Regions from separate parts of the Homo sapiens genome. Here all the other regions are linked to region 1. The links come from fine-mapping of genetic effects on gene expression. A gene starts in region 1. Each other region holds a variant in brackets. All regions are shown on one strand. Distances are from middle to middle.

Region 1 (8,112 bases):
TAAAAAGATGTTTATTCAATTCAAACACATAATTGATAAAATTTTCACCTTAAAACTATAAAGAACAAAAAGCTGGAATATCCATCAACAGTACAATAGAATTACAGTTTATTCTGAGAGCAGATCAGCCAAGACGAACAAATGAGTCTTGTAATTGCATACCAGAGGTCAAAAAATTAGCCTTACCAAATGAGGAGGGAGAGGAAATGCTGAGACCTAGAGGAAAGGTCATAATATTTGGACTGAATAAAAGCATTTCACTAATAGCAATTTCCCTTTATCTGACAGCAATTGTAGAAAGTTTTAACAAATCCTGTTAAAATGGACAAAAACTATTTCCTGAATAGTTAAGAAAAGATTATAATAAATGCCAAGTATTCTACAGCATGTATAGAATCTCATTTCCAAGTGAGCATGCTGTTTTCTTCAGCATCCTGTTAGCCAAGTTCCAATTTTGGACAGGTCCTAGGAAACACAACATTGTTAAAGACAGAGATGATACGAGGTGATTAATTGTAAGTACATTTCTATAGATAGTATTGCACTTGGAGTGTGTAAAAATCTCTCTGAAGATTGGTAGAGATAAGGGTTGTAAACAGGTTTGAAATCCACACAGTGATAGCTCACATGCTAATCTTTGCCCAAAGTTCTATGTTGTTGAGAATGATTCTGATATATTATTTTAAAGGAGAGAGTGTCGTATGAATTCCAGATCTTTGTCATGGACAAAGAATCTAAGTGCTATTCATTTGTGGTTCCTGATTCATTTGTTCCTTGAGAGATTAGCTAAAATTAAGAGTAGGTGAAAGAACCACCAATTCCTTTCCTATGTCTATAGTGAATACAAACAGCCGTTACTACGTCTCTCCCTCATGTCAGATGGAAGATGTAACATCTTCCACAAATACTTACTTTGTTACTACAAAATGGAAAGAGACACTTCTACTGTGGTGAAATGTGTATGGCAAACCCAAATAATTTAGGCCACAAAATACCCTAGTTTAGCCAGAATTATGAGTAATCTACTTTTTCCATTTCACTCTGAACATACTGTCCTACATACATTTTATTTATTCGTTCCTTGCTACAGTGTAAAGGCAGAATATACTTTAAAAAAATAATCATTCATCAACATTTAAGGCAAATGATCAGAGCTTGAGTTTATTGTTATACAATGTTGCTCTTTCTTCTTTATTTCTGAACAGCAAATCTCATCAAGCATGATTGAGTTTTGCTTACTTGTATCTTCTCCCTTACTTCCGCATTTACTATGTGTATAGCTCTTCAGAATAAAATTAAGATAGGAGTAAACCAATACAATTCAGCAGCATCAGTGACATAACCAAACATATAAAAGTCCTTCCTGACTGACCCTGAATGACCATTTACCCCCTTTCAAATTTTGACATCAAATTTCTACTTACAAAAAGTATATAGTTTCAATCAGGTGGTCAAAGCATTGATGACCGCAAGTAACAAGAAAAATGAACCCTGCGAATACGCACATAAAATAATAAAGGAAAAAAGAAAGAAAATGATAGCAAGGAGAGGTGGAGATTTGCTTGTTCTCAGAGGAGGAAACACCTATTTTTCTACTGTGAAAGAAGGAGAAATAACTCGGTCTGAAAAAAGAGGTGCTTTCTTGAAATGGTTTCCGCTGGATTCCCCATTATTTTAGATATGATGGGAGCTGGAGTTGTGCAGAATATTTTGGGACGCTTTCCGCATGGATTTATGATCCTCAAAAAGAATCGGCATCAATTAAACTATAGTTGACCCTTGAACAGTATGGGGGTCAGGGGGACGGACCCCCACACAGTAGAAAATTAATGTATAATTTCGACTCCTCATAAACTTAACTGCTAATACCCTACTGTTGATTAGAAGCATTACTGATAATATAAAAACAGTTGATTAACACATATTTGGTATGTTCTACATATTACATACTGTATTCTTAAAATAAAGTAAGCTAGAGAAAAGAAAATGTTAAGAAAATCATAAGGAAGATAAATATACTTACTGTTTATTAAGTGGAAGTGGATCATCAGAAAGGCTTTCATCCTCATCGTCTTCACATTGAGTGGGCTGAAGCGGAGGAAGAGGAGGGGTTAGTCTTGCTCTGTTAGGGGTGGCAGAGGAGGAAGAAAATCCATGCAAAAGCGGATCCTCGCAGTTCAAACCCCTGTTGTTCAAGGGTCAACCGCACAATCAGGTTTTGATGAGAAGACTCAGTTTTCAAACTTGATTTTAAGCAGGTATATATCCGGGTACTCAAATTCGGATGTAATATTACATAGAACTTAAACACTCCTAGTTAAGCAGAAATAGAAAAACCCAGTTACCTAAGTAGAAATCAACCTATGGGAGGAAAGCTCAGGAAAGAGCCAGGGTCCTGGCATAATAAAGAGTATAGGCATGATATATGTTTGTGTTTATACGTGTATATCTGTTGTTTGGAAATAAAGAGCAAATTGAGTATTGGATTAAGGGAAACCTTTCTTGTTTCCCATGAGAGAGCCGTCCTTTGAGCATCACATTTGCAAAGGTAGATTGATTATCCGGATCCACTTCCAGTGGGTTTTGTGGCAAGCCGAGACATCTATTGACAGCATCCATAGACTCTTCAGAGCTTGGAGTGGAAAGGACCTTGAACTTAGAACACATGCACATTTATTATGTGATTGAAGTCGTCTTCTCTCACTTTTGCTTCAGTAAACACTTAAACAAAGCCATGTACTTTGCGGTAGGCAATGTTCTATATTTATTAAATATACAGTTAACTCATCCAATCCATTGCAACCACCTTATAAGGGCGTTACTCTAATTCTCTCCATTTGATGGATGGATAACTGAGGCTAGGAGATAAACTGCTCATTGCGGGGGAGGTGAAATTCCAGCCCAGGCTGTCCGGGCTCTAGATCCTGTACTTTTAACCAATAGCGCTTTGCTTCTTTTCCTTGTATTTATCCCTTTCAAAAATGATTAACTGTATGCAAAATAAGATATCAACTAACGAGAGGGCCGGCAAGGGTTAACGCGGAAACAGATCCCCGAGCTGAAAAAACAAAAACAAACTGGGGAGCCAGAGCCCCTGAAAGCTCCGGTAGGAAATTCAATGGGCCTCCTGTTCCTTTAAACTCTCGCTTTCGCCCCCGCTGACACTTTGCAAAGCCGCGGCGGCAGCGGCGGGGACCACGCTGCGGTGCACCACCTTCCGCCACCCTCCCGCGCTGGGCTGGGGTCGAGGGGGCTTCGCAGAGTCGGTAACCGAACCGGCTCTGGTTTGCTTTCTCCACTCCCTAGCCACTACCAGAACCAGCCTCCGCGAAGGGGCGAGCTGTGGTTAACCCTTTCGTGCCCAGGGAGACCCCGCCAGGGTCGGGGCGGGGCGCGATCGCCCCCCGCAGTCGGGCGCGAAGGCGGCCCGGGAGCCAGGTGGGTGTGGGGCGCAGTTGGCGGAGCTGCCCAGGGCGTGCGAGCAGGCTGCGAGGATGGCGCCCCGGCGGCGCGGAGGTACCGCCCCGCGCTCCCCCGATAGCTCCCCGGCCTGTCCCCTCTCCCCGCGCTCTGGGGCAGCCGGCTGCCTGGGGCGCACGGGGCTGGAGTGGCCCTCTCCCTCCCCTTCGCTAGGCTCCCCCGGCTTAATCTGTTGGCCGCGACTCCTCAGCCAGCCCCGAGGAAAGTGCAGCCATTGGACAGGTCTGTGCGGGCTGCCGGTTTCAGGGAGGAAGGTGGGAGAAGCCTGGAGGAGCGAAGGGGAGGGCGGAGGGAGGAGGGAGGAGGGTGCGGCGGCAGATCTGGCAAATTGCGAGCTGCCTTCCCTCCTCAAAGTGTGGAGAAGGAGCGCGGGGGAGCGTGGCGACGGCAGCGCCTCCTCCGCCACCAAACTCCTGGGGCTCCGCGGGGGCTTGGGGCCACCTCCTCCTGAGCCCGGAGGAACCCTCTCCCGATAGGTTCCAGCGTGACTCCCTCCCACTCCACCCTTTTCCTTTCTTCTTCCTCTTTTTTTTTTTTTTTTTTAAACACATTTTTTTCCTGGCTTCGGACCTCAGACTGCTGCAGCCCTAACCTTCCCAGGGCTCAGCTCTTTGGAGCTGCCCATTCCTCCGGCTGCGAGAAAGGACGCGCGCCCTGCGTCGGGCGAAGAAAAGAAGCAAAACTTGTCGGGAGGGTTTCGTCATCAACCTCCTTCCCGCAAACCTAAACCTCCTGCCGGGGCCATCCCTAGACAGAGGAAAGTTCCTGCAGAGCCGACCAGCCCTAGTGGATCTGGGGCAGGCAGCGGCGCTGGCTGTGGAATTAGATCTGTTTTGAACCCAGTGGAGCGCATCGCTGGGGCTCGGAAGTCACCGTCCGCGGGCACCGGGTTGGCGCTGCCCGAGTGGAACCGACAGTTTGCGAGCCTCGGCTGCAAGTGGCCTCTCCTCCCCGCGGTTGTTGTTCAGTGTCGGGTGAGGGCTGCGAGTGTGGCAAGTTGCAAAGAGAGCCTCAGAGGTCCGAAGAGCGCTGCGCTCCTACTCGCGTTCGCTTCTTCCTCTTCTCGGTTCCCTACTGTGAAATCGCAGCGACATTTACAAAGGCCTCCGGGTCCTACCGAGACCGATCCGCAGCGTTTGGCCCGGTCGTGCCTATTGCATCGGGAGCCCCCGAGCACCGGCGAAGGACTGGCGGGTGGGGTAGGGAGGTGGCGGCGGCGGCATGGCGAGGTTCCCGAAGGCCGACCTGGCCGCTGCAGGAGTTATGTTACTTTGCCACTTCTTCACGGACCAGTTTCAGTTCGCCGATGGGAAACCCGGAGACCAAATCCTTGGTAAGTAAGATGCACTTTAGCTTGCTGATTTTGTGCGCAGCTGAAGACCTCTCTGGCACTCTCGTGCTCCCTACCCTCTCCCCCCAACATCACCTATCTGCCCTTGGGAAACTTATTGCAGTTGCTTTTCGGCTAAACTTAGGCTTCCCAAATGGGGAAAGAGGGTTATCAAGAGAAGGACGCCGGGGACTAGGGGTTTTCTTGAGGCTTTCGGGCTTACTTCACCTGGGCGGCAGGGGGTGGTACTGTCTCCCCAAAGTAGCCCAGGGAGGGCTTCAGTGTGAGAGCAAAGCTTCTTCCGTGGATACATCTCCTAGGACCTGGCATCTCCAGGCTGTGTGCTCTCCGGCTCCTCCTCCTTCCTCGCTGCTGGTTAAACTAAGCGTGTGTGGTATGGGGTGGGTGGGGGACGTTGTGAAAGCCAGGGATTGCAGGTCTCCCCTCTGCACGAGAAAATTCCCTGTGGCAGCACCTTCCTTCCCCTGGCGATCCCCACTAGCTCCGTCTAGTGACCTGGGCCAAGCGGGCGCTGGAAGGGGGGCGGGGTAAATGCGGCCGGCGCAGAGGTGGGGAGCAGGTGGGAAAGGTGGAGGCGGGCTCGCCTCTGGAGACCTACCCCTGCTCCCATTGTCCTCCGCCTGCCAGCTTCACAGACAGGCCTGAACGCGCAGAGAGTTCCTTGGAGTGCCCTGATTTTGTCCCCGAGAGGGCCCCCAACCTCCGCATCCTCTTAGTGGCTGTCCTGGCAGGTGCGCGTCCTGCGGGGAGTTGCGCCCCGGGGGCTATCGCCGAGCGGGAGCTGCCTCCTGGAACCCTGCCCACCGCGAACTGGGTGCCTACTCCCCATTTCTGCCTTTCAGTGAAGAAAGTGAAGACACAGGCAGAAAGAGATCTTGGCAGAAATTGGTGAACTAGGGTGGACTTCGAGAGGAGGTGAAACGAGAGAAAAAGAAAAAAGAAAAAACTTGGAGGGAAAAGAAAAGAAAACGAAAACTTTCTCCCTAGGATAATCAATTTGTCAATTTGTTCTTTTCTGGTGTGTGTGTGTGTGTGTGTGTGTGTGTGTGTGTGTGTGTGTGTGTAATTTAAATGATTGCCCGGAAAGTATGCATGCGTCCTCAACAGTCAACTAGAGAGTCACAGATGGAAGGTTGGGGGACACCTGGGGATTCCAGGCAAGGTGAATCTTGAAGATCTTGAAGGAAACCCTTGAGTGAAATTTACCAAGCCGCGACTTAGAAGACAGTCACAACACTTCGCCTGTCCCTGGTGTAAACTGTTCTAGATAAAGCACAGATACTGACTCTGCGCTCTTATTTATGGTTGAAGGGGTGTGTGTGTTGGGGTGTATGTGCAGGGAGGCAATAGGATGACAACACTTTTAAAGCTGAGAACAAAATGCAGATTTCTTGGGTGTTGACTTGTCTTTGTCACATTTAATTGTTCTGCATTAATGGACATAGGTTGTTCTTGACTGTGTATGATTTATGACAGTAGACTATGCCTTTTGTTTATTTCTCTGATACGTTTCATTGGTCCGAAAAAATAACACTTTTAGCCTTCCAGGAAAGGACACAGTTATTTAAAAATTGCAACAGTAATTTTCATGTACTTATTCACGGTATGAATAGATGCTTAATAAAAACAATTAACTCCACCACAAACGAGGTTAAAAGGATGTGTGTGCCAATGTGCATCCCAAGTTGTTTATTTAAAAACTTCTTTGGCACTAGGAATAAATAATGCATTTGCAGTAAAGGAAAAAAAAATAAATGCCAGCAAATGTTTATCTTTTTATAAACCTGTTCCAGTAACGTTACTGAAAAAAGAATATATGTATACACACACACACACACACACACACACACACACAATACACACACATTTGCTATGCCAAGAAGTTCAGAAATTGAGGATGAAATTCATCCCAAAGTAAGATTGGCCATATAATTAAAAGCCCTTGCTGTGGGAAATATAAAATACTTAAAATGTTCAACATCAGTGTACTGGTATTTTAAGCTAGTTGAATATTTCTGATGGGAAATATACTCTAGAAACCCATATATTGATAGGATTGATTTTTAAAAGAATGGTTTTAAATTCCTTGCCAAATTTTCGAAGACTTTTATAAACAGAAGTAGCTTCTTTCCTGGACATCATTTACATGTAGTTTTATGAAAAAAATATTGTAATTAAATGGTTAGCTTACTGAATATATAAAAAAAGCAAGGTGAAACAGAAAAAAGTATACAACTTTATTTGTAAAATAGTCTATATAAAAATTCAGTATGGGGGGAAAAGTCCAGCAGTCTTGACGTTTGTCATGCAACAATCAGGATCTTTATTACAGACATGTTGGCACAGGAACAACATCTGATTTCATAACAGGGACATTTTATTATGCGTTACTTTAGTAAATGCTGCAGTTGATTTCATTGCCACCAGAGGGCAGATAAACTGCTAATTTCCTCTATTATTCCCTTTTCTGTTTTAGAGGGAAGTAGTTTATGTTTATCATATAATTTACACTTATTTTAGTTGTTCTTCTCTGGTTGAATATTTTTCTGTTATTTCCTGCTTTTGTTGGAGTTAAACAATTTACTTTGAAATATTACTCATTTGTAGAGTTTGTTATGAGAGTGTTGCTGTTGAGACATAATCACTAAAGTTTCTGTTTACATATAAACCTAGAGCACAGTGATATAATAGAGGGGTTAATTCAAGTGAACATTTATTGTAAAATGGACATCTGTCATATTGTTGGACAAAAGACAGGTTGATTATTTTATCAATCAATGACTTGAGGCTACCTGCAAAATTTTAAAAATATGAAATATGAGTTTCTTTTTCCTTTAGAGAACAGATACAAGTTTTGGAGCTTGAGGTTGGGTAAGTTTGGACTGAGACATAATTGTAGTGTAGAACATTTATATCAAAGGTAATTTTTGTTGTTGTTGTTCATGGATGTCTGCCTAGAGGTTTGGAATTATTATAATCAGGAGAATTTGCACATTTCAGTGTGATCTTCAGAAATAAACTCTTGTCAGGGAGAATGTATTTGAATAAAACTTAATAATGAAAGATAATAATTTTGCTCCAGACAGGTTTCTTCACTGTAAGCATCAGATACTCACAGAGTATGTAGAAAATATGTGTCCGGCCGGGCGCGGTGGCTCACGCCTGTAATCCCAGCACTTTGGGAGGCCGAGGCGGGTGGATCATGAGGTCAGGAGATCGAGACCATCCTGGCTAACAAGGTGAGACCCCGTCTCTACTAAAAATACAAAAAAAAATTAGCC
Region 2 (8,112 bases), 300 kb after region 1:
GAAGCACAGTTCTCATTCCCAAGCATTCACGGAGAGGTAATAAAAGCTGAATCTGCTGCTTTTTCTCTCAGAAGGCATATGTCTAGCAAAGGAAACAAGTCAACACACAAAAAATATATATGTAGGCATCCAAAATATTCCACATACCAGAAAAAAAGATGAAAAGTGACAGGAAAGTTCAAGGGAACACAAGACATCTGCCTGGCAGGGATGGAGACTGCTCAGGAAGAAGACAAAGCTGGAGAGAAGGTGAGATTTTTGGCAGGTGGTGTTATGCAAGGAGGGGTGCTCTCCAGAAAAGGGAAGCAGAGATGAGAGCATGCAGGAAGGAATTGGAGAAAAAGAATGAAGAATAGAAGGCCTGCCCTTGCCTATCCTGGAGAGAAGACAGGATAGATTAATTAGTGCTGGGTCAAGGAGGGCAGTGAATGACAGACAGTACCACTTAACACTTATCCTCCCCTTTCACCATAAATTTGTTGTCTCTCCCGCAATCTTTCTCACAAGTAATAACAGGGAATGGCTTGATCAGAAATTGTCTCCTTATTTATTTGCCTCAATGGTAGTATTTATACTGTGGAATCCCCTTTTTTTGGAAATCACCTTCATTGATTTCTGTAATGCCATCTTTCCTGGCATATTCCTGCCTTCTCTGGCTCCCTCCCACTCTCAGGCATCACCAAGACTGGTCTCAGCAGCCTGCCCCCTGGCTCGGCTCTGAACGCCGGTCACTGTCACAGTCAGCCCCTCCTTGTGCCCCCACACTGTTCCTCCCGGCAGCTGACCTTGGAGGACCTCAGGATTGGGGAATCAGCATCTCCTCTCCTAACCCTTGCTCTCTAGTTCATCAATCTTTCTATTTTTCTCCCAGTTTTTCAGGATCTCTGCATGTTACAATTATCTTTGTTTCGTTTTGTTTTTGATCGGCCTTGCTCTTTTATTCCCCACACAGACTCTGTTTGAGCCATCCCTCCCTTTCCATTCTCTCTGCCAACAGCCAAGTTCCATGTCACCTCACACTTGTACTACTCCAGTCACCTCTGACACCTATTGGGCTCCCTTGTCTATGCTCACCCCCTGACCAGGGTACCCACATAATTCTACCAAACAAAAATAGTGTCTTTACTTTCTCTCCTGCCTAGTTATACAACAGAAATCAGCCAGCATTTATGGAGAACCATGGTGGGCTGCACAGAACACTAGGCAGATGGGGTTATGATGACAGATACGTCCCCTGCTCTAGAGGAATGTTCAGTTTTGTGTGGGTGATAGACTTGCAAACCATTGTACTCACAATGGAATACCTTCTAAAGTGCCTTAACATGTCTCGTATCATTTTCTAGTACTTTCACATCAGCTTATTAATTTTAACCTTGATGGTAAATCCCTCATGCCATTTGTTAATGATTCAATGACTCTATTTACTTTAAAAACAGAAGTATTTATTTTACACACACCAGCAACTAATATTACAATATTTTATCATTTTACAGATAAGGACACTTTTTAAATTTGGATTTCTGAAAATAATTATCTTGTGATTCAGAAAAAAATACATTTTCCTTGGACCATAGGTGTTCTCTAAGTAAATTATACACATACATATACTAACATTTGGTTTAGTTTAGTTCAAAAGATAAAACAAAAATGTCAAACTGAAATGTTTGTTTTCTCAATAAACAGTGTAAAAAGAATCACACTGTAATCATTGCAGGAAAGACATGTTTACTTCATTTTCAAACTAGTTAAGGATGACCAAATATATTTTGTAAACTTTGCATGAAATCCCAAGATGCGAGTCTCACGGTTACTCCTTCTTGTAAGAAAGTTCATTCTCCCAGAGGACAAGTATTTTGAGATTCTTCTAACATCCAGAAAGTTCACAGATCCTAACGTATACTTCAAGTAATTTCTAACACTGGCAATATTTTGATTAACAGTTTTTTAACTAAATGTCTGCATTCTTCCCAAATTCATATGCTGAAACCCCTTTCCCAATGTGACCATATTTGAAGATGAGACTTTGGAGAGGTAATTAGGGTTATACGAATTTATTGAGGGGGAGACTCATGGTGGGATTAATGCTCTCTTATGAAGAGTCATTAATGCCCTCTTACAAAGAGTCATTGTCTCTCCATCTGCATATACCATGTGAGGACACAGCAAGAAGGTCTGTGTCCTCTGCAAGAAGGTCCGTCTGCAAGTCAGGAAGAGAGCCCTCCCCAGAACCTGACCATGCTGGCTCCCTGATTTCTGACTTCCAGCCTCCAGAATTGTAAGAGAATAAATTTCTGTTGTTTAAGCCATCCAGTCTATGATATTTAGTTATGGTAGTCTGAAAAGACCAAGATAGCAATTGAATTATATTTGAAAGTCACTCACAAAGTTTTTCAGTTACTGAACTTAAATTGTTCACATAGGAAAATGAAAAAAAAAAAAAAGGTTCTACTTTCCAATTAGTATTCACTCTGACATTAGCCTCATTTTGGATTTCAAATTTCTCCTCTTCCTGAATGTACAGACTTGATCACTGTTTTCCTGAAATAAAGAATTCTCCCTTGAGCTCTGACTCGATGTCCTCCTCTCCATCATCCCCTGCTTCAGTGAGACAGTATCCCATGGGCATATTTAGTGACCTTTTTAATTTGTTAAGCTGTCATATTTGTTCATCTGTATTAAGTTGGGAACCCTCAGAACACACTTCTATCACGGTGGATTTATAACACTTAGAGAGTTCTGCTTTATAGATTTTTAAGTATAGAAATTTTCTCACTTTGCCTTAATTTAACATTATGTTAATACTTAGGCTACCTTAGTTTATTCGAAAGATAAGACCACATGAAAGTTGGAAAGAAAATTTTTACCGTGGAATATATGTGCTGTAGCTCTTTATACAATACTTGTGAAGTACTAATATTATAGACAAACACATTGCCAACAGGAAAATTAATGCTTTTATCAAATAAGCTCATTGCTTAAGGTTTTCTTTAGACTATGGAAAAATAAGTCAAAATGAAATAAAATGACCCTTGAAGTGATATCTTTTTATTTCATGGAAGAGTAGTTTGCCAGTGTGTGTTCATGCATCTTCATCTTATCAGGTACAGAGATGCAAATTCAGTTTCATGGTTAGTTTAGCAGGTAGTCCCTCCCATCTGTAGGCTTTGCAATGGAGAATACTGATCAGAGGAATCGGATTCTTTTCCCAGATCTCCAGACTTTTCACTTCAAAGTGCAACGGCTTAATGCAAAGACAACTGCCTCAACAGGTAGATGTTCAGTGATGGAAAACCACCAAATGACTCTTTTTATTGTAAT[AC/A]CTTACACTGTATGGGTTACAGAAATTGGGTTAGCTTTCTTAGCTTGCTAGCTAGCTTGCTTGCCAAGATTGGGTTAACTTTTACTCTAAACAAGCCTTCAAACCCAAATTTAGCTTTTTTCTTCCAATTTCCTTGCTGTAGTAACTGGTACCATCATCTTCCATTGAACGCCTTCCTCAGCCCTTTCGCCCTTTATCCAATAAGCCATCAGGACGTTGGTTCTACTTTTGAAAAACTCTCTAATGTGTCTACTTCTGCCCACTCCACTCCTAATTGCAGCCAATTCCATCCTTCCATGGGTTCCTGAGATAGACAGCGAATTATTCTCTCATTTCAACAGTGAACCCCTCCTTACTCATTTTCTACACATTCTGGCTGAATGAACTTACTATTTAAAAAAAAATTTTTTTGAACCACTTCAGCTGCATAAACAATAGATAATGTGGAAAACACTAGTGTACCCATTCCCTAGTTTGAAGGGGAAAAATAAAAAAACAGACACAGTTGATTTTGCCATGTACCCTTCTCAATTTTTTCCTCCATTCTTCTTTGGAAGAAAACATTCTCCTTAATGTGGTGCTTATCAGAATGCTCTTCCAATTAAGCAAATGTGGCTGGGTGTGGTGTCTCATGCATGTAACCCCAGCACTTTGGGAGGCTGAGGTGGGTGGATCACTGAAGGTCAGGAGTTAGAGATCAACCTGACCAACATGGTGAAACCCTGTCTACTAAAAATATAAAAATTAGTTAGGCATGATGGCAGGTGCCTGTAATCTCAGCTACTCAGGAGGCTGAGGCAGGGGGATTGCTAGAACCTGGGAGGTGGAGGTTGCAGTGAGCCGAGATTGTGCCACTGCACTACAGCCTGAGTGACAGAGTGAGACCCCATGTCAAAACAAAATAAAATAAAACAGAAAACAATTAGGCAAATCTGGTCAAGTCTTTGTTGAACTCTTCAGTGTTTGGCCATTGCCTTTGAAAAACATCCCCAAACTTTTGCTGTGGGCTGGCATAGCCTTCCACCATCTGACCTCAGCCTGTTGCTCTCTGGCCACATCATGCACCGTTCTCTGTGAAGTCCGGAGAAGGCTTTTCTCTCTACTTTAGCCCTAATGCCCAGCACAATACTTTAAACATACTAAGCAGTCAATGATTACTTGTAAATCCAGTGAGTACACGGATCAATGTCAGACGCTGTGTTGAAATACAAACATGAAAATGTTATGGTCCCTGTCCTCTGGGGTCTGTAAGAGGTGGTGAGAGAGGGGAATAGACCTAGGAATGGATGTGAAAACAAACAATTTTAACTCAGTGTGAGAAGACCTGTAACAGACGTCTGAATGAGCACAGGTGTGGACCACAAAGGGTGTAATCAGGCCTTCTGGGTTTGTGGAGAATGAAAGAAGTCTTCACAGACGAGGAGAAGCTTAAAAGATGAATAGGATTTTTCAGGGCACAGAAGCAGGAAAGTATATTTCAGGCAGAAACAGCAGCCTGTGAAAATGCATAAACCCATGGTACCTGGAGAGAACTGTGAGTATCTGGAGCACAGGATACATCTGGAGGGGTGGTGAGAGGTAAAGTTGAAGAGCCAGGCAGTGACCAGACCAGGGAGGGCTTTACATGGCAAGCTGCTGTGTTTGAAAATTCAGCAATTCACACTTGAAACCCAATGTATGACTTATGTATTGTGCCAAGTAAAGCACTGAATACAAAGATGAGTAAACTGACCCGTCTATCCTTAAAAGCTAGCTCATCCAACCAATGAGGAGATAAATAAATCCGCAATGCAATTTTTTTTTACCACTTTCTCTTCAAATACAGTTGTTTCCTGAATGGCTAGATTCTGATGACATTGGGGATTTGTCATTTTTGTAGACATTGGATAGTAGTCGTGTTGCCATAAACCAGAGGGCCAGCACGTTACTCTTTCACCTGTCACCGGCACACCCAGGAGGAGTGTTCATGTCAAGTCTTTAGAAACCTTCAGCATTGCAAAGCTTATAAAGGATAGCAAAGGCCACTTGAGAGGTATTTGCAACCTTGACTCATGTCAGCTTGTCCTCTTCCTTTTGCGAGATGGTCTGGGCTGAGTGTGGGGCACCTAAGCTGACCCCTTATCTAAGGCCAGAAATAAGTAGCCACACACTGGAGCTGTTTCAGCCCCTATTTGGTAACAACAGTAGAGATCACTTTTTTAGCTTAACGAGGGTCATCTTTCTCAATAATGTGTAAATAGTCCTAAGGGTGATTATGTAATAAATATATACCCTTCACATGTTAGTACATAAAAACCCATTATATCTTTCCTGAGAGAGGATTTAAATAGGCAGGAGAGAATTAATAGTCATACTTACCCGGGTAGAGTTTTTGACAATGGCAATGTAAGAAATGCACAGTGTTGAAGATTAGACAATGAACTCTAGAACATTTTGTCTACGCCTCCCCCATACTTCCCATATCTAAAATTTGTGAAAAGGTTAAAATACTATTACATTTTATTTAAATAATTTTAAAAAGTATTATTTTAGTACGATTGAGTGTCTTCTCTAATATAGGCTTGCCCCAGTTTCGTGAAGCTTTGAGCACTTAGACAAGGTGCACTGTCATGGTCAGGTCAGGTTATCCGGGATAAATCCTACCTTCAGCCATCTTGACTGGTGCACTCACACATTAAACGGGAGCTGCAGATAAATGTCCATGGAAAGAATTCCTCGCAGCACGATGACCCTTTTTATTCTCTTCTTTAGCAGATAGAAAGTGGAATTTTTAAAAAGTCATCCTTCAGTTCTGATTGGTCTGAACCAGTTACACAAAAGTGTGTTTGAGATGTGGATTCACGCTGCTCCTCTACAAAAGCTGCATGTTAGGAAACCAGGTTATCAATCACAAAAGACCTTGCATGCCTTCCTGCAGTCCCCTTTCAGAAGTGCCTCTTTTCAACCTAAGGAGATCATAGCTTTGCCCCCAAGCCTTTCTGTAGATGTAAATGTAAAGGTGCTATGGGAAAAATAACCCTAAGATTCTTTTTCCCCCCCGGAAAACAGTAAAATATTGAAGCTGCACTTGGAAGGTCTTTTTCTCTTGGTTGCACCAGTTAAACTAAGAGGAGATGTAGTGTTGTTATTACTTATCTGTTCTCGGGTTGTCCCACAGTTCTGGTTCTATTGCCTGCCTTTTTTTTCCATATACCCATTTCTCCCTGTTATCAGTAATCTGCTCTGGGCAAAGTCACAGTAAATCGAGAAGTTAATAAGCCATTTTTTTTTTGAGAGCACTTCTTAATGCTTTACTTTGGTTGGATAATCAGATGTTAAGGTTTAATAGAAGTAAAAAGGTTGTTAAGGGAATGGAAAAATAAGTTATTTAATGAAGTAACATTAGAAGTAAGGTATTTGGATACCTACAGATTGGTGGCTTGAAAGAAATGTACCTGTTTCTCTCCAAAGTGTGTATGATGTCACTAGAAGTAAGAAGACATAGAAAGGAGAAATTTGAAGTCAGAATTGTTGTTTGTAAGCAATGACATCCCTTCTAAATGTTCTACAAAATATTTTATTCAGTCTTACAAAAATTTTTTTGATAGTTGTTTTAGGTCTCTGACTTGTATTTTGCTTATTGCCTAATTGCAAGTAAATTCTACAGATTGTTATTTATCATTTAGGTATCTATTTTAAAGGAAGAGTTTATTGTTTCTGTGTTAAAATAATGCACAATGAATAAAAATGAAAAAATAAATAAAATATTTAAAGACTGGAAGAAAAAATATATTCTCATTTTCAGACAATATAATTATCACATACTAAATCCCTTAAAAATGAAAAAAAAAAATAGTTCAGCAGTTGAGCGAGATTGTAGAATATAAAATCAATATATAAAGTCAGTTGTGTTTCTGAATACACAGTCAGAAAATATAATTGAACATAAAGTTTTCAATAACAGTAGCTTCAAAAGAGCTAAATAAATCAAAAGACATATAAAGATTATGTGAAGGATGTTGTGAAAAATGTCATAAAAAATTAAAAGATTTCCAAGAGTACATAAATAAATAATGACAAATACCATGTTCATGGATTGGGGAATTCAAAATTAAAAGAAATGAATTCCTCTCAAACCGACTTATAACTCCAATGCAATTTCAGTCAAAATATAATATGATTATCTTATGTGTTTGTGTGTGCATGCGTGTGTGTGAGTGCACATGTATACTGACAAAATTTATATGAGAGAACAAAGGAACAGTGATTTTCACACATTCAAGGCAGACAGTTGATGGACTCTTGATTCGCCAGGTCTAAAGACATAACAAGGAAACATGGAGCCATCCACACAGGGATAAACAAGTTGACCGATGAATCAGAGTTGACTCCTGAAAAAATCCCATATATTTATGAAAATTCAACTATGTATTGCCCAGCAGTAAGAATAGGATGGAATTTTCAAAAAAGTGAGTCATGGATATGGCTAGAAGGACTTAGGGCTTCTTTCAGTCTCTCCCTGTTCTCAGTAATTGCAGTGCTTCCTAAAATAGAGTTGATGAATTTTATGAGGAACACATTATGTCTGTGAAAATAAATGCATTTTTGAAAATCTCAGTCAAGATGAAATTAACCAAGATATTGAAAGGTATGTGTATCTGGGTCAACAAAATGAAAAAGACCACGGCTGAAATGCTTTTAGACTAAGTAAGCTGGATGCTTCCTGGATTTTACTGCAGTTCAGATTTAAAGATACTCGATATGTGTTTTGTATTGATGTATAAAATCAATGTACTTTAACATGCCATCTCTTT
Region 3 (8,112 bases), 330 kb before region 1:
TACTGCATGTTCTCACTTAAAAGTTGGAGCTAAGCTATGGATATATGGAGTGGCATACAGAGTGGCATAAAGAACATTGGAAACTCAGAAAGAGGGAGGCTGAGAGAGTAGTTCGAGGGATGAAAAACTATCTGATGAGTGTAATGTATGTACTCTATTTGTATTATAGTTGCAGTAAAAGCCTAGACTTTATCGCTGTACAATTCATCATATAACCAAAACCATTTCCACCCCTAAACTTATGAAAATTAAAAATATTTTTAAAATAATAAAGAAGGCCGGGCACGGTGGCTCACGCCTGTAATCCCAGCACTTTGGGAGGCCAAGGCAGGCAGATCACAAGGTCAGGAGATCGAGACCATTCTGGCTAATAGGGTGAAACCCCGTCTCTACTAAAAATACAAAAAATTAGCCGGGCGTGGTGGCGGGCACCTGTAGTCCCAGCTACTGGGGAGGCTGAGGCAGGAGAATGGCATGAACCAAGGAGGCGGACCTTGCAGTGAGCCCAGATCGCGCCACTGCACTCCAGCCTGGGCGACAGAGCAAGACTCCGTCTCAATTAAAAAAAAAAAAATAGTAATAATAATAAAATAGATCAGTGTAGCTTTTTAAAAAAGCAATTAATTTTATTGATAGATATCAAAAGCCCTAAAAGAGACAAATCCATCGATACATTTTTATACCCAATAATGGCATGTTAGGAGTCTGTCTTACATAACTACTTCCAATTATGAAGAAGCTAAACATAGTTTTGTTTAAATGTAAAATACTGAAACAACTCTATGATGAATAATAATGGAATTATTAACTAAATTAGGGGTATATTCAGTTTTCATTATATTTTATAGATATTAGTGATTACTGTGAAAATCAGACAAAATATTTATGATATGATAAATATAAAGGTAGAGAAAATATTGTGTATATGTTATGATTACAAGTATTTAACCTAGTTACAAAAAAATTTAAAAAGAAAAATGCGACAAAATGTTAAAGACATTGTGTAAAGAAGGAGAGATTGTTTTTTTCTACATTATTATGTATTTAAACTCTTACTATAATAAAATATGTTTTAAAAGCTCAGAGGTTTCCATTTACTTATCACATTAAATCAAATGTCAATCTGCATTTTCAGAACCAAAAGACGTAGTTTCTCCAATACTTCACAGACCAACATACCTTTGTAAGTCTGATCAGTTTTTTTTAACTCCTGCTCACTCATGAACATCTTTGAGTCTTTGATAGTTAAAATTCTTTGTTGTGGTCTAAGCTCCTTTCATGCCTTCAATGCATCTAGATGTTTACTTGCTTAGGACTTTTCTTAGATATGTTTCCTGACTCACTGTATTCCATGGGAAAGTTCTCTTGTACTTGGAATTTCACTAGGTCTTCCATACATATATAGCAGCCTTAGAAACCCTAATTGTTTCTTTTCAGTTGATTCCAAAGCTGAATATGTGGTTTTGTCAACTAAATACCATGGTCTTCAAAAGCAGGGATTACGCCCGTTTTAATATTCTTCATGTGGTTACATGAAAAACAAAGGTACTTAGAAATGCATGTCCATATGAAACTTGCCGTCTGGAATCTCAGAGCATATTGAATGTCATCAGCTTAAGAAAGTAATAAAACAACAAGTGTTTCTTCATAAATATTATCTATATAATGATTATATCTGGTTCAGTGTAATGAACTCTGTGTACAAAACGATTTTAATCCAAATTGAAATTTATAGGATCGAGGATTTGTAAGCTCTGTTTCAAAGTAAAATGAAACTAGTTTTCAATTGATGTCACTTTCATGTTGGTGAGAGTTTGTTTAAATCTACAGTAGATTAGTCCTATATAAACCTTATGTTCTTACTGGATTAAATTTTCTTTTCTTATGGCTGCATTATTTTCCACGGCCTTCATAGGATCTTTCAGTTTCTCATGCTTTAGTTAGGTCTTTACATCTCTGTTTGTCAGTCTTTTACTAGCAAAATAAATATTCTAGTTTTTTCATATGCCATAATCTGCTGGCCAGGTTATTTTCAACTTTTATTGTGAGCACCAATGTTCCATCCATTCTTTTATCATCAAATATAGAATATGTGAGATATCTTTCATTTCATGTATTTGACAACCAGGTGAATAGTTTTTGCCTTTATCATTACCATTTTGGCTGAATAAAAAATATAAAATGGCTAAACACATGCAAAACAGTCTTTCATTAAAAAAATCTATCTTTTCAATTTGCTGTATTCTTAAAAAATATACGTGAGGCTGTTTTTTATTTGTTTATTTTTCTTTGGACACCTAATATTTCATAGATATTCTAGTCATTGTTCAGTTTACTGCAGTTCAGAGCATCACTTTATTTCTCTTCATGGCTTTGCTATTCTATATTTTGAAAGAAAATAACCCTTATTTAGAGATGTAGCCTATTTTAACTTTTTTTTTTTTTTTTTTATAAAAGCCAAAGAACCAACTATTTAGAGTGACATCAAAGCACATTTCCCCTGTGGAGTAATTATATGGCTTTACATCCTATGGCATGGAAAAATAAAATAATCTCAAATGCATAGACTTGCATATGGAAAAAATGTCCACATACTGCCCTAGGGTTAACTGTAAATTCTCGCTAGTGTTAATTAAAATTTTGTGGCAAAGTTCCTAAACTACTTGGTAAATATGACCTTTAAGTCTTTGTCTTGTTAATGCCCATAATTGGACCATTTGCTGTTGTCTTAGATGTTCTTTCTTCAGTCTTCATATTTGTATATACCAAATTTTACTGGTAAATTATTTTTGGATATCATACAGGTTTTAGCTATTGTATTATGGGCATAATCCAAAGACTCTGGATATGCACTTTTAGTCAAGTCTGTAGAGTTGTGTTCTTTTTATTTGTGGAAGTACTGCCTAATTGTCAGTAAATTACCTCCACCTCGGGTACATCACCTCTGAACCTATAATCACCTATGTAACAAAGGAACTGCTGAATTTTATTTAATTTGTTGAAGTTGATAAAAAAAATTGTAAACCTTTAATATAAGTCACTATGAATCTGTGAAGTATTGTCATTTGACTACATATCTGATGAAATAATATTTAAATATAAGAATTGCTCTAAAAATTCTATGTCAATTCACTTTTCTAAGCCCCCTTTAGATGAAAACATTGTTTCTGAAATTATGATAACCAAGGTTTATAAAGAGCCAACTATATATCAGGTTCTATGTGAGGCCCAAGAGAACACGATAAGAACTTCTGGTTCTAAGGAGCTTGGAGTCTGGGGGGACAGCCAGCCATGTATAAATAGCTCTTATATGTGATGATACTCATTGTAGTATAGGAATAAAAGGGTACTTAGGTGGCATGAAACAGAAGTGTCTCACCTGGGGCAAAGATGGCAGTGAGAAAGGCAAGACAAAAGTAGAGAGAGAGAAGTCATTTCATTGAATCATAAGTTTGGGCAGCGGGCACCTGGGGCTCTGGAGGGAATAGTCAGGGCAGACAGGAAGTAGCATCTGTGAATGCATGAAAAAACGAAGAGCAAGGGACAGATTTGTGAAACCTTCAGTCATAGGATATAGAACAATTGCAGGTACTTGAGAGTCACAGAAAATGAGACTGGAAAACTAAGCTGGAACCAAGGACAAAGGATTTTTAATGTCTTTATTAGGGGGTTTGGATTTATGTACTAGGTAATGATCAGCCTCGGTCCCCACCTGTACAACGATGGAAAGGTGTGTGGCCATGCAAAGAAGTCAAATGTCATGAATGACCTTCCTGCAGAGTTAGGATTTTTGTTAAGAATACTTTGCATTTTCTAAGAAGTAGTTTGGGTTATTACATGGGTTATTAAGATCCCGTGTACTGAAAAAATTTAGCGGGGGCGGAGGAGAAGG[C/T]GGGCTCCCAATCCGGTTCTATCCGGTTCTCCCACCATCCCCCGCCAGGGGTCTCAGCAGCTCGGAGGGTGGAGGGGCGGCAGCGCCAGGCACCGCGCACGCGCCTTTCCGGAGCCAGAATGCCCAAGAGGAAGGTCAGCTCTGCTGAAGGGGCCGCCACAGGAAAAGCCTAACAGGAGGTCAGCGCTGTTGTCAGGTAAACCTGCTCCTGCAAAAGTGCAGGCGAAGCCGAAAAAGGCAGCAGCGAAGGATACATCTTAAGACAAAAAAGCACAAACAAAAGGGAAAAGGAGAGCAAAGGGAAAACAGGCCTAAGTGGCTAACCACGAAAGTAAAGAAGAGTTAACTGCAGAAAACGGGGAAAGGAAAACTGAGGAGAGTCCAGCCTCTGATGAAGCAGGAGAGAAAGTAGCCAAGTCTGATTAATACTATGTACCATGTCTTATCAGTGGTCCCTGTCTCCCTTCTTGTACAATCCAGGGGAATATTTTTATCAACCATTTTGTAAATGCAAGTTGTTTAGTAGCAGCTCCAGAAACATTTTTAAGAAGGAGGGAATCCCATCTCATCCTATTTTTTAAGTGTAAATGCTTTTTTTTAAGAGGTGAAATCATTCGCTGGTTGTTTATTTTTTGGTACAACCAGAGAATAGTGTGGGATATTGAATTATGGGATGCTTTCACTGTCTTGGTTGTCAGCTTAACATTGCATCGGTGGGGGTTAGTTTTTATATCCTATAATACAAAGCATATTCAATGGCAATATGGAGTCACAATCTTGCATCTAACGTCTTTAGCATTTTAAATTACTTCTATTCCCATGTTGTTTTGTAGTAGAATTGTTTCCTAAAGAAAACTACTCCTTGATCGTGGCTCTGCTGTCAGAATTGTGGGCACTGTGTAGCCTCTTTGGTTGTGATAGTCCTATTTTCCTAATAACTTTGTTACTGTGCTGTGAAAGGTCAAAAATTTGCATATGTAGCATACATGCTATTCAGTTGTGAATTGGTGGGATGTAGGTAACAGCTTATCAACATGTGAAGATACTGGTACTTGATAGCCTCTTAAGGAAAATTTGCTTCCAAATTTTAAGCTGGAAAGTCACTGGAATCACTTTAAAAAAGAATTACAATATATAGGTTTTTAGATTTTTGGTACATGTCTTAGGAATTGTGTACATATTGAAATGTCTGTACTGATCCTCAACCAATACAATGTCAGTTATGAAAGAAAAAATATCTTTTTATCTTTTTTTCCTTTGTCCATTTAAAATGTTTGATTTTTCTATCTAAATTAGGTTGTGATGTGCCACTGAAATAGGCAATGTTGGCAACACAATGTCTGTTACAATAAAATACATTAGACATTTAAATAATCTTAAAAACCATGTGAAGGGACATAAACCCGGTCGATTAAATCTGGAACAATGTTTTCTGCACAAGCGAGTACAGGCATACCTCTCGTTAAAACTGATGTAAACAGTCATACCTCTGTTTAAAACTGATGTAAACAGAAGAAGCCAAGTGGGGCGGGGGGGGGGCAGGGTTATGGGGGTGAGGGTAGAGTGGGGGTACGGTGAAGGGAGGCTGAGGTGGGTGGGGGAAATGGCAAACCAAAACAACACTAACTGAGGTAGCAGGACTCTGCTCAGTGCAGAAAAATTGGCTTATGAATAAAAATTAGACTGTGATATCAAATTAAATTCAGATCATCACGCAAAAGACACAATACATGCTATTTAGTTTTAGAAAAAAACACACATTCATTTCCTGAAGTCTGCTGCCAATTAATTTTCTGACAATGTCTGCTGGCTTGACTATTTTTTTATACGAGGATGAGTATTAAACACTGTCCATACTTTTTCATCTACAAAAAATTTGCATAAAATAGTGTTAGTTCTCTGTACTTGTCAATGGACACTTTAATTATGTGTATAAAAAAGGAAAATTTTGCCCCATGGGAGTCAGGAAAAGCAAAATAAAATTTAGAGTATGAAACCTCCACCAGCCAGTATGTTTATGTGAAAATTCAGCAGAAATAGACAGTTGCTTTAACCAATAAAGTTAACATCTTCTTTATGTAAAATTTTCAGTCAAGACAGGAACATATCATTAAAATTAGTGTCTTTGCTATAGACTCAGATCACCAGGAGCATTACGAGCAGCACAAATGGCCAGGAAATCTCATCAGTGCATGCTGACAATGAGCAGGATTTGGTGGCAGGCTGCACATACCCTTTACCAGGTTCCAGGTAGTTGTGGGCCACAAATTTGAGTGTCTCATCCATGAGAATCACAGGCAAGGAGATTTTCAGCACCATCAAAGTGCATAAAAGATATTTCAGAAGTAGAGTCTATATAACTTGCTGAACCATTGAAGGTGGGACTGAGAAAGAGGAAGTTGGGGAAGTCCATCTTAGGCAACTGTTGAAATCCTTAACTTGCTTACTAGTGTGAAATCTATAAAATACCTAACAGGAATCTTCAAGTCTAATGAAAATATTGATGGAATACTGCTTTTGTTTTTTTGTTTTTCCCTAGTGGGAGAGATCTCTGAGCTTTGTCCGGAAATCACTGATTTTTTGTGCCGGGACAAGAAGTGCATTGCATCCCACCTTCTTTGTGACTATAAGCCAGACTGCTCTGATAGGTCTGATGAAGCTCACTGTGGTAAGTTTATCTATCTGCTGTATGGCAGCCAGTTCAGCAGATATTTTCCTTCATAAGTAGAGTTAGATATTGGTGTTGATGATGGAGAAGAAATATTATTTTCATGCACTAGAGTAGATTTAGAATAGCCCAAATATTTCCCCAAATTTGTATACAAGTATCAAATACAAATACAAATGACAGTACTTTCATATTCTTTACCCCATACTGAGAACAGTAACAAGTCTATAGAAAATCATTTTACCAAAAAATAATCCCATTCTGTAATTAGGCACACTGTGTGTAGGGTTAGAATTAAAGTTTCTAGGAACTGCAGTAGCAATCTGCCTTTCTTTATTGGTTGTTTTTTTTTTTCTATTTTTTTTTCCAAAAAATTGTTGATTTTGTATATGCAGCTGAAAATGATCACTTTTAATAAATACCAGTTTAGTAATTAATTTTATCAATTACATTGCACTGGAGAAAGAGGACTGGTTGGGCTCCATTGTATTTTTATTCAAGCTTTAATTCAAGCAATGTTTAAAAACATATATAAAACTAAGTATATAATTTTAAAATATGAGCAGATATTTAAATTCAAAGGATCTTTTTTCCATATATTGTACTGGAAAAAAAGGATATTTTTTCCATTTATCTTATCTTTCCTAGAGAATATTGATACCATACCAGCTACCTGTTGCAGTTACCATTTGCTGCCTAACAAGCTACCCCAGAAGTTAGTGGTCTAGGCCACTGTTACATTTTGCTCACAATTTTTTGGGTCAGTAATTCAGGAAGGGCTCTTCTGGGCAGTTTGTCTCTGATGGCCTGAGTCGAACTGATAGGGTGGAACTAGATAATCACATCCAAGATGACTTCTTCTCTTGATACTCTTTGGTCTCTCTGTCTTACTAGAGATGGTGTCTCATCCTCCAGAGTACTCCATGTGGCTTGGGCTTTACATAACATGGTAGCCACAGGGTGGTAAGCCATTGTACACAGGGCTGGCTTCTACTAGAAAGTGTCCCCCGATCCTCAGGAAAAATAGCAACAGTTACTTTGATTTAGCCTCAGATGTTGCATAATACCATACCTGATTCCTGCTAATGGCCAAGCAAATAACAAAGTCTAGACTAGACTTTCAATGAGAAAACAAAGTCTAGACTAGACTTTCAATGGGAAAATACATCAAATGTAGAGAAGGTTGTAGGGTGACCTTTTTGGAGACAAACTACCACACAAGCATATTTACATTTTTATTGTATAGCTCAATTTAATTTTTTATTTCTTAGGATCTTATACTGATGCTTCCAATGGGCTCATTTTCTATTTAAAATTTTTAATATATTTTTAAACTTTAAAAAGCTGTGGTAAAAAACACATAATAAAAAATTTACCATTTCAACCATTTAAAATGTATAATTTAATGGCATTAAGTACATTTGTATTGTTGTGCAACCACTGCCACCATCCACCTCTAGAACTATTTTCATCCAAGAAAAACAAAACCGTATTAATTAAAGAATAACACTCCATTTACCCCTTCCCCTAGACCATGGTAACCACCCTTCTC
Region 4 (8,112 bases), 350 kb before region 1:
AAGCCTGCACTTTAAATGAAACTTTACTTATTGGCAGGATGAAGTACGCAATGCTTCTCAAATGACAAAATAGGCTTATTTGAAGTAACTAAATCCCTGCAAATATTGATTAACAAAAAGTGTCAAAGTCATGTTTAAAAATAGCTTGTTATAATTAGTTTATCTCCTGATTATATGTTCTCTTCCAACTTACTTATCAATATTAATAACATGTCCATACATAAATTGATATTTTACTAACTATATATCATATATGGATACAAAGATTAATTTTGACTTTTCAGTGAAAGGTAACTGGTTTTTATTGATTGAAGAATTTTGATTATCAAAAGGTAAGAATGGTGACATCTTTGTCATTGATTTATAAACAGATGCTGTCTTTTTGAAAATGTATCACCGCATGTGGTAGAGATATTTACTCTTTGAATGACATCAGTTTCTTTCCCGCATGTTTCCCTTTTAGTTAAACGGGTCAATAAGAATCAGAATTGGCCAATGTGCTGTGAGGAAGTAGCATGTGTCATTTCCAGTTGAAATATTTAAAATGTAGTGTACAATTTTCATCGTTACAGATTTATTTTGAATTCAAAAGTAAGTCTCATCAGGTCTCCCTTGCATGTTAAAAGGGGCCTTATATCCCAGATAGTATATCTACATCTGCCTCATCTTCCTGAATCTGTAGATGAGAATCTCTTAGCCAACTTGTTTTTTAGATATGTATAGTTGAGTTATATATATATATATATGTGCGTATATATATAGTATTTTTTAAGATTTAAGTGGTATTTTAAAAGTATATCATCAAGCCCATCCTAACACACAGTGCAATCTACTACCTAACACACAATGCAATATTACATAAAGAGACATTATTTAACATTGAGTTTTCCAGTTTCTCTACCTTGGAAGCAAATACATTTGCTGTATTTAAGGTCACAGTCTCAGGATTATGGTTGCTTAATTAATAAACAAAAAGAAATCACAACCAAGCTATCAATCCTTTGCAGGTTTATTCAACCTGAAGATGTAAGAGAGAAGTATACTTACCTTCAGATTCTAATAGTCTAAAGGTGTTAACCAAAAGCTCCCAGCATTCCTGGGTTCAGCCTTTTGAGGAAGTACCCTCAGTGAATAAAGTTGACACTAAACAAAATTCTTAACGAAGAGGTGGAGATAGTCTTTGTGACATCAACCCTCTACATTCAGTCATTGCCAGTTATAAATCTAACTTTCTTTTATTGCTTGAATTGATTTGAGACAGGCTTCAGAAGAGAGACTTCATTGCCATGATCAACTAACTGCATTGTTCTTCATTAAGCCTTAGAGCCCAATTACTTGTTTCTTATAAAATCAGGGACTAGTTCTTTTTTTCTGGTCCAAGGCCATTCTTTAAACAAAAGAACTATGTGATTGAGTTTATTATACTTTTAATCAGTGATTTTAAATTAAAAAAGTCAAAGCCATGGATGAATCTAATTACTTTAACATTGTATTCAAGTAAACCATTTGTTACGTACCTTGAAATCATCAAATACTGCTTTATCTCTCAATAAAATTAAGAGAATTAGCATCTGAATGTTAAAAAGGTCTATATTTAAAAATGTAATTTAAATCATATTATAATGATAAATATTACTATTAATATAATTATATTTAATTATAATCCAAGCACAATGATATAACTTGGTTCATTTACATTATTAAGAAAAAATAATTATTTGACCAGACATTTTAGTAAGGCTTAAATAGCCCTTGAAATATCCCTAGGTTCAAATAGAGGCAACTGTAAATCTGAATGTTAACATTATCCTCAGTTCATGTAATTTCTAATTAGAATTTGTTTCAATGACAATGAAAATTTTCATATTTAGGATCTAGGTCAGTAGGACCATTGCATAGAGTTTTTGTGATGATATGGTGTTTCCATTTTTACTGAACTATATTTTACTTATTTTCACTCAAAATGAATATTGATGTTTATCAAGAAGGCTCCTACTTTATACTCATATATAATTTTTCCACTACATAATTGAAGTATATGTCATTTAGTCCTGAAATATCGGTACAGATATATACTAGTATATAAGATGTATAAGCTACAGTTGAACTTGAGTAGATGTGGAACACATGAAAATTACATCTAGTTGAGCCAAACATAAAGAAACAGTTAACAACCAAATCTACAGATATTTATACATGCACAAATATTAAGCCAGGACTAGAAACCAATTTTCTTGTCTATTCCACTTAATGGAACGCACACACAAATGCACATACGCACACACAGATTTTTTTTTTTTTACTGTAACATATAAGTTTCTGAAAAACCTCATGTTTTGAATAATATGAAAAGAAGAAAGCCTTTGGAAAAATAGTATTGGAGCAAGCCACTGAAATCATAGGTAATCTAGTTACCCAGCACTAATATAAACACTAGCAATCATATTCAAGCTGCTAGTACAGTTTAAAGTATCTGAATTCCTAGTAAATAGAGGAACTTTTGAGTAAATGTATGACTCTACCTAAAACAGTGGGGGTGGATGGGAGGCAAGGACCCTTGAGGTAAACATAGTATAAAATGTTTAAGGCTGTTGAATTTTGAAGGCAAGAGCAAATTACCCGAAGACCAGGAGAACTAGGCAATAAAGAAGCACTTTCAAAAGAAAGCACATGGATAACTCATCTGAAAACGTTGGTTGAAGCACACTCTGCGCAGTCCGGGAATTCCTGTATGACTTGCTGAGCTCAGCTGTGCAAGTACTCTTTGGTTTCATCTGCTGTATGTTGGTGCTACAAGAATTATTGTAGTGGTCAAAATCATGGACCAATCAAAACAACTTCTGGTTATAGTAACCTAATTCCTCCACTGATCCGTTGCATACATGCCTACTTGTTTAATTGTTTTACAGAAGCATGCATTGAATAAGTGACAATCAAGACAATGGAAGGAAATGAATAGATATTGAAAAATCAATGGGCGACAAGATCATACTAGACCCAGCATATACACAATCTCATTTAAGAGGGGAATAAGAATGTTTAGTATGGAATGGATTCTTGAAGGATTTGAGTCAAATGACTCACACAAATTGTCTGGAAAGTTGTCTCAGAGGAACTGGGAAATGAAGAGTTTAAAATCGTTGATTAAAAGGTCAGGAAGGAGTTCAGAGAAAGAAACCAAGTGTGCTTGGAGTTTTTTCCACTAGGTTACTTTTTGGTCTTTTAGTCTTTGTACATTCTAATGATAATTTCTTGGAAATCTCTATGTTAACTAGATTTACTCTAACTGCCAACACTGTCAAACGTAAAAGGAGTTCATGTAAAGGTACAAGGAATCACATCAATCAAGAATATGGTACAACGTCAGGAAGATATGGAAATCAAAGATTAAAAAGTGAGAGGGGGTAGGGGCAGTGGCTCACATCTGTAATCCTACACTGTGGGGGGAGGCTGAGGCAGGAAGATCACTTGAGCTCAGAAGTTCAGCTTGGGCAACATAGTGAGACCCCATCTCTACAAAAAATTTTAAAAATTGGCTGGTGTGGTGGTGTACACCTGTGGTCCCAGCTACTTAGAAAGCCGAGGCAAGAAGATCACTTGAGCCTGGGAGGTTGAGGCTGCAGTGAGTCATGATCTCACCACTGCACCCCAACCTGGGTGACAGAAACTGTGTGTTTCAGCTCATCTATTTAATTTCCCTTTCTGTGGAACGTCCATCTCTACTTTACCGTACATAAAGAAAACATGACTCCGGGGAATACACGAGCCTGGACACATTGTTGCAGGCATCCTTTAGTTTTATTTCTAAATTCTCTGACCTATCTTGGGTCAAATGGTCACCCTCAGACTAGTTATTGTAGAGAGACGGCAGGATACATTAGACAAACATGCCTACTGGAACTCCACCTTGGTGACCTTATTGATGAAGGAGTGTCACCAGAATAGGGGAGCTGGGTATACAAATCATATTCACTATGTCTTATTTTCTGTATTCTGATGCTTCCTAGCAATAGTAAAGCACTTCCTCTTGAGTGCATTTTTCAAATGCAAACCAACCACTCTAGAGCCCACATCTCCACCTACTTCCTTTATGAAGCCGTCACACTCAGAGCCACTATCTACCTGC[C/T]CTAATCATCCTAGGTTTAATTACCAGAGACTAGGAAGAGCCACCATGCCCCCGAGTTTACTGAAATTATTCAAACTAGCCAATTGTAAATCTGCTTCTCATAGAAACTGCAATAAAGGCGCTTGCCCACAATTTTGCATCTCCTTCTGCCTCCGGATCAATCCGAGTGTTTGCCTGTGCAGCCTCCCTACAGTGAAGTGTTCTCCCTTCACTCAGGTTCTGTGAGTATAAAAACCTATCTTTTCCATGGCAGTCATTTCCTGATCTGTGGGCCTCACCATGCCTAAATATTACTAAAACCTAAATGAAAACACAAATCCACTATAAGCTCATTGAAAATCTATTCTTAGAACATGATATTTTGCATTCAATAAATATTAATACAGTACCTCCTACTAGCAAGTATAGAAGGATATTACACAGATAAGTTGATTATTCTAATAGATGGCTAGTCCAATAGTGAGGATAAAAAGTAATGAACTGCACTAGAGCAGTACAGTGAGAGTGGAGACGGAGAGGGGGCTGCCTGAAATATTGTGAGAGGAATGATAATTCAAGAGTTTGCTTTAGCTCTGGTTATTATAGCTTTCATCTGGCTGGCAAGAAAAAATAAGGCAGGGAAAGAGGCAAAGGAAGGACACATACCTGGTGTCTTTTAAAATTGTTTTCTTGAAGCTTTTGTGTATTAATTATACTTACAATGAATTAACCAAAATTTAGTTGCGTGGTTAAATCATAAGGAAATCTACGAAATGTGTTTATTCAAAACTAAGTTGTATTACTAGGAAAGAGGAAGGGAATATATATTTGTATAGAGAACCAATAGCCTACCACAATTTCTTATAAGGTAATTTCTTTTATTTTTAAATTTAATTTTAATTTTATTTATTATTTCCATAGGTTTTCGGGGAATAGGTGGTGTTTGGTTACATGAGTACGTTCTTTAGTGGTGATTTGAGAGATTTTGGTGCACCCATCACGTGAACAGTACACAGTGAACCCAATTTGTAGTTTTTTAATCCCTCATCTCTCTTCCACCTCCCACCCTTTCCCGAGTCCTCAAAGTCCATTGTATCATTCTTATGATACAATGCATCCTCTGCATCCTCTGCATCCTCATAGCTTAGCTCCCACTTACGAGTAAGAGCATAGGATGTTTGGTTTCCATTCCCAAGTTAGTTTACTTAGAATAACAGTCTCTAGTTCCATCCAGGTTGCTGCAAATGCCAAATGCCACTAATTCGTTCCCTTTCGTGGCTGAGTAGTGTGTGTGTGTGTGTGTGTGTGTGTGTGTGTGTGTGTATATACTCTTTCTTTATCTACTCATTGACTGGTGGGCATTTGGTTACATATTTTTGAAACTGTCAACTGTGCTGCTATAAACATGCGTGTGCAAGTATCTTTTTTCGTATAATTACTTCTTTTCCTCTGGGTAGATACCCAGTAGTGGGATTGCTGGATCAAATGGTATTTCTACTCTTGGTTCTTTAAGGACTATTCACACTGTTTTCCATAGTGGTTGTACTAGTTTACATTCCCACCAGCAGTGTAAAAGTGTTCCCTTTGTGCCACATCCGCACCAACATCTATTATTTTTTGATTTTTTGATTATGGCCATTCTTGCAGTAGTAAGGTGGTATCACATTGTGGTTTTGATTTTCATTTCCCTGATCATTAGTGATGTTGAACATTTTTTCATATGTTTGTTGACCATTTGTATATCTTCTTTGGACAATTGTCTGTTTATGTCCTTAGCCTACTTTTTGATGGGATTGCTTTTTTCTTGCTAGTTTATTTGAGTTCATTGTAGATTCTGGATATTAGTCCTTTGTCAGAGGTATATATTGTGAAGATTTTTCTCCCATTCTGTAGGTTGTCTGTTTACTCTGCTCACTGTTCCTTTTGCTATGCAGCAGCTCTTTAATTTAGTCCCACCTGTTTATCTTTGTTTTTGTTGCATTTGCTTTTGGGTTCTTGGTCGTGAAGTCTTTGCCTAAGCCAATGGCTAGAAGGGTTTTTCCGATGTTACCTTCTAGAATTTTTATAGCTTCAGGTCTTAGATTTAAGTCCTTGATCCATCTTGAGTTGATTTTTGTATAAGGTGAGAGATGAGGACCCAGTTGCATTCTCCTACATGTGGCTTGCCAATTATCCCAGCACCATTTTTTGAATAGGGTGTCCTTTCTCTAATTTATGTTTTTGCTTGCTTTGTCAAAGATCAGTTGGCTGTAAGTATTTGGGGTTTATTTATTGGTTCTCTATTCTGTTCCATTGGTCTATGTTCCTATTTTTATACCACTACCATGCTGTTTTGGTGACTATGGCCATATAGTAAAGTTTGAAGTCAAGTAATGTGATGCCTTCAGATTTGTTCTTTTTGGTTAGTCTTGCTTTGGCTATGTGGGCTCTTTTCTGTTCCATATGAATTTTAGGATTGTTTTCTCTAGTTCTGTGAAAATGATGGTGGTATTTTCATGGGAACTACATTGAATTTGTAGATTGCTTTTGGCAGGATGGTCATTTTCACAATATTGATTCTACCCATCCCCGAACATGGGACGTGTTTCCATTTGTTTGTGTTGCCTGTAATTGCTTTCAGCAGTGTTTTATAGTTTTCCTTGTAGAGGTCTTTCACCTCCTTGGTTAGGTATAATTCCAATTTTTTTTTTTTTTTTTTTTGCAGCTCTTGTAAAAGTGGTTGAGTTCTTGATTTGATTCTCAGCTTTGTCACTGTTGTTGTATAGCAGGGCTACTGAATTATGTATATTAATTTTGTAGCCGGAAACTTTGCTGAATTTATCAGTTTTAGGAGCTTTTTGGAGGAGTCTTTAGGGTTCTCTAGGTATATGATCATATCATCAGCAAACAGTGACAGTTTGACTTCCTCCTTACCAATTTAAATGCCCTTTATTTCTTTCTCTTGTCTGAATGCTCTAGCTAGGGCTTCCAGTACTCTGTTGAATAGAAGTGGTGAGAGTGGGCATCCTTGTCTTGTTACGGTTCTCAAAGGGAATGCTTTCAACTTTTCCCCTTTCAGTATTCTGTTGGTTGTCAGTTTGTCATAAACGGTTTTTTATAAGGTAATTTCTGAGCTTAAACATATGTAAAAGTATGACTTTAACATATATTGTCAGTTAAGAATTTGTATCAAATGTAAATTTTCACCTAACCCCATGTTCTTAGGGCTGTTTCTTCACATACTCTCTGTTGAGGTTGCTTGTTGTTTGATTCTCTGGAGTCTTTTTAAAAAATTTTTTTTGAGTCATAGTCTCACTCTGTCACCCAGGCTGAAGTATAATAGCACGATCACAGCTCACTGCAGCCTAAACTTCACAGGCTCCAGCAATCCTCCCACCTCAGCCTCTCAAGTAGCCATGACCACAGGTGCATGTGCCAGCACATCCAGCTAATTTTTTGTATTTTTAATACAGACAGGATTTAGCCATGCTGCCCATGCTAGTCTCAAACTCCTGAGCTCAAGCAATCTACCTGCTTTGGCCTCCCAAAGTGCTGCGATAACTGAGCCACCATGCTTGGCCTCTCCAGAGTCTGTGGATATCTTTCCCTGTCTCTGTAATTCAAAAACCTAAACCTTTCTTATAATCCCACCACTCCCATCAGGTTCCTTTCCTTTTTCAATTTAGGTGAAATAATTTGTCAATTTCTTTAAATTCTCACCAAACTTTTTAAAAAGAAATTTCAGTTTTTTAAATAGAAAAATTTCCTAATCAAGCAGATGAAATTGTAGATTGTTTTAATTTACATCTATGATTAATAATGGGGTTGAATGTTTTTTAAAGATTCATGAGCTAATTATTAAACATTTATTTTTCTTCTTTTGAGAATTACCCATTTATTTTCTTGCCAAGAATTTCTACTGAGCTGCTTGCTTTCTTGTATTTATTCAGAAGTGGTCTGTCTTCATTAACTATATTAACCTTTTTTATAAGATAATGTAAATATGTTTTTCTTGATTTTCATTGTCT

What was found. PIP is the estimated chance that this variant, and not a neighbour inherited with it, causes the effect.
Region 2: its variant is fine-mapped to the expression of PLXDC2 in whole blood (INTERVAL, PIP above 0.99).
Region 3: its variant is fine-mapped to the expression of PLXDC2 in whole blood (INTERVAL, PIP 0.90).
Region 4: its variant is fine-mapped to the expression of PLXDC2 in whole blood (TOPMed, PIP 0.96).

The regions. Positions count from the first base shown.
Region 1 is chr10:19,812,379-19,820,490 of GRCh38, forward strand. It overlaps PLXDC2 (plexin domain containing 2), which reads left to right and starts at 4,054. Exons shown (of 14, transcript NM_032812.9): 1 at 4,054-4,813. The coding sequence starts at 4,702. It overlaps LOC124902388 (a long non-coding RNA gene), which reads right to left and starts at 3,850. Exons shown (of 2, transcript XR_007062078.1): 1 at 2,024-3,850; 2 at 1-465. RefSeq lists an enhancer at 2,978-3,743.
Region 2 is chr10:20,109,912-20,118,023 of GRCh38, forward strand. All of the region lies in intron 4 of PLXDC2 (plexin domain containing 2), which reads left to right. Among named protein-coding and RNA genes, the nearest start is that of PLXDC2, 300 kb to the left of the region's middle. The variant AC/A (reference allele first, on the strand shown) is at 3,319.
Region 3 is chr10:19,485,086-19,493,197 of GRCh38, forward strand. It overlaps MALRD1 (MAM and LDL receptor class A domain containing 1), which reads left to right. Exons shown (of 40, transcript NM_001142308.3): 30 at 6,432-6,560. It also overlaps the pseudogene HMGN1P20. Among named protein-coding and RNA genes, the nearest start is that of MALRD1-AS1, 240 kb to the right of the region's middle. The variant C/T (reference allele first, on the strand shown) is at 3,893.
Region 4 is chr10:19,458,164-19,466,275 of GRCh38, forward strand. The region is part of intron 29 of MALRD1 (MAM and LDL receptor class A domain containing 1); the gene reads left to right. It overlaps LOC102724082 (a long non-coding RNA gene), which reads right to left and starts at 1,129. Exons shown (of 3, transcript XR_007062079.1): 1 at 1,048-1,129. The variant C/T (reference allele first, on the strand shown) is at 4,127.